Linked DNA regions of Homo sapiens: region 1 is linked to region 2. A link means that fine-mapping ties the variant in region 2 to the expression of a gene that starts in the linked region. Tissue or cell type: testis. Region 2 holds a variant in brackets; the other region holds the start of a gene. All regions are shown on one strand. Distances are between the middles of the regions.

Region 1 (2,687 bases), 57 kb after region 2:
TTGTCCTAGGCAATGTTTAGCCCGTCCACTGGTAACCTCAGTCTGTTTCCCTGTTTCTTTCACTCTCTGCTTGCCTGCACAAATTTGCATGCATATATGGGTTCTCCCCTACTTAAACAATTTGGAATTCATATTGGCAAGTGGATTTCCCCCCTCTTATAGAGGAGATTAAAAAAAATAAGTACAGTGAATGTGTCCAATTCAGAAAGGCCTTGGGCCTCAGTTCTCAGCTTCCCCTAAGAAGGCCTCTTTCCAGCTCGATTCCAGGAAGGCTGGCTCCAGGAGCTCAAGCCAGCAGAGGCCCTGCCTCGGGCCTCAGCTCATAAAGCCAAGGTGTGTCTGAGTCCCTTAACTCTGTCAGGCTTAGAACTTGAGCCTTCACTCACTGGCTGCTGTCAGAGTTCAGCGTTCCCTGCCAAGCCATCGGAAAGCTGGAGGCCAGAGAGAAAAGGCGAGAGGCATCAGATTTCTGCCTGCAGATGGGAATGGGACTGACACTCCCCACATAGGATTTCTCTGTGAGCAACCACAGGCATTATCAGCGTTCAGGATCACATCACAAAACACAGCCTGATCATCTTGCCTTCTCTTTTTCCTCCTCTCAGAGATACAGATGCATTGCTCCTTTTCCCTTTGCCTCCCGGCCTTTTCCTTTGTTTGCCCCTCTCCCCTTTCCTCCACAGCCCCGGCTTTCCCAGGTCTGTTTCTCTGTTGCTTTTTCCCCAAAGGCTCTCCTGTTTTCTCCTGTCCCTTTGATTCCTCCCCCTCCTTTCATCCTGCAAATCTTTCTCTGTCGACTCCCTGTCTCCTTGCCATTCTCGGTGTGCCTTTCGGATCTGTTTCCTTTGACACTGGTCCCAGGCCTGCTGCCAAGTTTCAGACCCATTAGTGAGGTGCCTTGCTGACTGAAACACAAATCAAGACTGATCCGGGTACAATTAGCAGCAGCTCACACCTCATCTGGAAAGCATTAGCCAGCACTGAGAGTGTAGGGAGGGAGGCACAGGGAAATATTGATGCCAAACAGAATAGATCTCCTACTTTTGGAGCGTGAAAGGATCCTGACCCAGTAGACATATAACTGAAAATAAGATACAAATGGATAATGCAAAGTTGAGAGGCATGTTAACTTACCTCGGCCACTCTTCAGCATCTACGCAAGCAACACAGGCTCCTTAACACACAATTCAGGTGTATAAATATCATCCAGGAAAAGGGGTGTCTGATTCATTTAATCCAGATATTCTAACACATGTGTGATCCGGGAGTCCTCTGCTGTCTTGCAAAATTCTATCTTGGTACTGTTTCTAAAAATTTAATGTACAAAAGAATCACCTGGCATTGAGCTAAAAATGCAGATTCTGATTGACTAGGACTGGAGAGGTGCCTGAGATTCTGCCTTTATATCAAGCTGATTGGTGAAGCACACTTTAAGGGTCTAGGAAAATTTAAGACATTTAACTTTGGTCAAGTACCCTGATCTTCTTCTTTGGAGCACTCACAATTATAAGGAAGGTTGAATGATATAATTAGCTGTTTGATGCCTATCTTCCCAACTCAGAGGCAAGCTGCCCAAAGGCAAGGACCAGGCCTGTCTGGCTCTCCTTTGTATCCTCAGTACTAGCCCAGTATGTTGCATATAGTAGGTGTTCAGTAAATATTTCACAAGTGAATTTTCACAAGTGAATGAACCAGCTCAATCCCTAAGGCCCATCAAAAGTTACTCCTATTTCAGAGAGCCTTCCCAGTCCAGCCTCCCTTATCCATACCTGCCTGGTGGCATTTCATCATTTCCCCTGTGTCTTATCTTAGCCCCTCAAGCAGATCATTAGTTGCTTGAAACTGGGACTTTGTCTTCTGTGTTTCTGAACTTTTTTTAATGTCCTTTTTTCTCCCTTCCTCTCACTCCCCATCATAGTAAGGGCTTGCTCTAGCAGGCATTTAATGTTAGTTGATTGATTGAGAGACCCTAGAATGATGCCAAGTTCTATTTAGACTTCAATTATAATGCTCAAGGGGTGGCTGGATTTTGGCTTGGATAAAAGCCAAGATTTTATATGCCCCAGTGGAAAACCTTTAATACCACCTAACACATTGTGGGGTGGGAAGGCTAAGACATTATGTGTGTACAAAATCAAGCGATGTAATACCGTGAGGCTCCCAAGGCAGTTATAAATCAGGCCACTCCAGAGGGGTAACTGCGGGCTGTGGCCATTACTTCACTCCTGTTTTCTCAACTGAGAACGACGGCTCACGTTTGCCAAGCTTTACTTGCAGGGGTGGGGGCTGTTGTTCCCCAGGATTGGGCAGACCGTTTCTCTTGGAAAGACAGAAAACTGGCTCACAGAGTTCTGCCAAAGATAGGAGAACCTGGTCTTGTTTAGAACTCATCAAATGCCCTATTTTTCAAACATCAGGGCTGTGTGAAATGCAAAGTGCTTTCGTCAAGCACTACCCCCATACCCCATAATATTAAAACATGCATATTTTAAGGGACATTTAATCCATATGCTTTTTATTTACTTACCCTTAAATCATCAAAAATAATTATTATGAAAACCTGTTTGACATCTGAGAAACTTTATGAGCATAATTTGGAAATTTAAAAATCTTGCTTTCAGGAAAAAAACAGAAAGTTGTGCTTTTCCAAAAACACACGGCTTTTAAAACAAAGAGACGTGAGGGCC
Region 2 (2,687 bases):
ATAAAACCCTTTTGTTCCATTTGTCATAGTTCCAGGCCCACCGGATCTCTCCTACCCTTGACATGCACCTCCATTACCTATCTAAGCCTCAACTTCCCAGGGTCTCCCTCTGAACTTTCCCCTTCCTAGGGGAAAGAAGGCAAAGCAACATTGTTGTGATGTGATGTCCAGGACTGGGGTCACATGGCCCCCTCCAGATCTGTCCCAGTGGTCACTTTCCCAGGTTCCTGTCTGACTTTCACATTTTGTCTAAATGTGATACAATTATTTCTGGGGCAGAAAGGAGACTCTAAAAGGGGCCCTTTGGTTACTCTCCATGCACCGCCCCCCCAGGGTCCTGAGACCTGTTCACTTGATCCCAGAAGGAAGAAACGAGCTCTTATTCCCTCTCAGACCTCTGCTGATACTTGTTTTTCAGCTAAGTTCAAGACAGCCAAATGAATTTTTCAGAGAGACCACAGCTGGCTTGTCAGGACCCAGGTAACAAGATGAAAATAATTGAGAGAGGAAAAATCCCAGAGCCCCTCAGGTGTCATTTTCACAAAGTTTTCTTCTGGGTATCCTTATGCGTTCCGAGTTATTCATTGGTTCTCTTCTGTTGTCCTCACTGGCAATTTTCCTCTGCCTCTTCTTCTTTCTCTACAGTTTTCCAAAAAGCATAAGCTATGTGTCCCTGATCCTGAGCAAAGTTGATGTGAAACCTTGTTTTTTTTTGTTTTTTGGTTTTTTTTTAGAACATTTCATAGACAAAACAACCCCGCTGCAGCTGGAGGCTGCTGGGATTTCTGTGCCTTGTTTTAATGCATGGGACCTTTCATGAAATCTGGGGCAGTTAATGGAGGTGGGGTGGAAAAGAGAAGAGGAGGAGGGGGAAGAGAGGCATGAACTTTTACACCCAAAGTGGGACTTCAGAAGAATTTACAGTCGTCTTCTGTGGAGACAGTTAAGATTTTTTTTTTTTTTTTTTTTTTTTTAGACGCAGCCTCATCCTGTCACCTGGGCTGGAGTGCAATGGCGTGATCTCGGCTCACTGCAACCTTCATCTCCCGTGTTCAAACGATTCTCCTGCCTCAGCCTCCCAAGTAGCTGGAATTACAAGCACCTGCCACCATGCCCAGCTAATTTTTGTATTTTTAGGAGAGATGGGGTTTCACCATGTTGGCCAGGCTGGTCTCAAACTCCTGACCTGGTGATCTGCCCACCTTGGCCTCCCAAAGT[T/G]CTGGGATTACAGGCGTGAGCCACTGTGCCCGGCCGAGACTGTTAAGATTTTATTGCCCTAGTACCAGCAGTTATGATGTTCTATAGAACTTATAGCTGAGCCCATGCCAGGGATTCCCCAGCTCACTGAAGCTGGAAGGAAGCCAACTGGACTGCCGAGTTCACTTTAGGAAGAGAGAGGGAGTTAACTTAAAGTAGGAGGTGGGTTGGAGGAAGGATAGAAGCCCAGAAAGTAAGTAAGGCATTGTAAAGTCACACCTTAGGCTCTGCAGTCAGACAGAGCTGGCTGTGGGTGACTTTCCGATATTTACTAGCTTAGGATATTAAGCAAGTGCTTTAATCACGCCAAGACTCAGTTTTCCCATCTGTGAACTGGAGGTCATAATAGTACTTGCCTTGTTGGATTGTTGTGAGGATTCGATGAGATAAAGTCTGAAAAGAATTTAGCACAGTGTCTGGTTCACAGTAAAAGTTAAATCAATATTATTTTCTATTATCATAATTATAAATAATGGCATGAGCAAAGGAGAGGCTGCGAGTAGAGTTCGCACTTTCCCTCCCTAAGTGTCAGTGCGTCTGGAGAGAAGACAAACATTCTTACGTATAAACAGTCCCTTCCGTGTGACTCTCTCATCCAAGCCTGCTGCATACCTTGGGTGTGAGGGCAAAGAGTAGTAAAAAGGAAGAAAAATGGAAGAAGAAAGAAGAGACCACAAAAGCAGAAGAGATTCACCGGGGGTGAGGGGCACCAGGGCAGCAGGGTGGGGGCAGGAATGATTGGAAAAAGACATGCAAAAGACAACCACGTGAAAGAAATGAATATGGATATGGAAATTGTCAAAAATGGAAAGAAGTTTTGCAGCTGGATGTGGACAGAGCAGGAAATGTGGAGGAGAGGTGTAGGAGTCTAAAAATGTACAGGGTTTAGTTTGCCGGCCAACACCTCCTCTGGGGAGGTAACAACTCCTGAAAGCCATGAACTTTTAAAAAGGAACCTAAACAGCACAGCAAACCTTCCTGAAGAACATATAACCTCACTGTGTACTTTTTGTCAGCCTCAATTCCTTCCCCACAACTCTCACTGAGCCATTGATCAGTGACTCACCCTTATCTCCCACGATCTCACACTCCGCTGTAACCCTAAAGAAAACTCTGCTCCTTAAGGTAATCCTTGACACTGTGCTGTGCAGGCCTCTGCTGCAAAGGGTAGGGGCAAAATTACACCATGCCTGGAGCTTAGTAAGTGCTCCAGGCATGGGGTAATTCAACAAACAATGTTGGTTGAATGAACAGAGGGATGAATGGTGTGGTATACTTGAGGCAAGCCTACATGCAAGTCAACAAGACTGCTCATTGGATCACTTGAGCCCAGGAGTTTGAAATCAGCCTGGGCAATATAGTAAGACCTTGTCTCTACAAAAAAAAAAAAAAAAAAAAAAAAAAATTAGCCGGGTGTGGTGGCACATGCC

What was found. PIP is the estimated chance that this variant, and not a neighbour inherited with it, causes the effect.
Region 1: LINC02044 starts here. The variant in region 2 is fine-mapped to the expression of LINC02044 in testis (GTEx, PIP above 0.99). The same link has a PIP of 0.9 or more in left ventricle.

Annotation. Positions count from the first base shown.
Region 1 is chr3:113,166,467-113,169,153 of GRCh38, forward strand. LINC02044 (long intergenic non-protein coding RNA 2044) reads right to left here and starts at 1,265. Exons shown (of 4, transcript NR_110823.1): 1 at 1,135-1,265. The region is part of intron 2 of NEPRO-AS1 (NEPRO antisense RNA 1); the gene reads left to right.
Region 2 is chr3:113,109,126-113,111,812 of GRCh38, forward strand. All of the region lies in intron 1 of NEPRO-AS1 (NEPRO antisense RNA 1), which reads left to right. Among named protein-coding and RNA genes, the nearest start is that of LOLI1, 6.0 kb to the left of the region's middle. The variant T/G (reference allele first, on the strand shown) is at 1,219.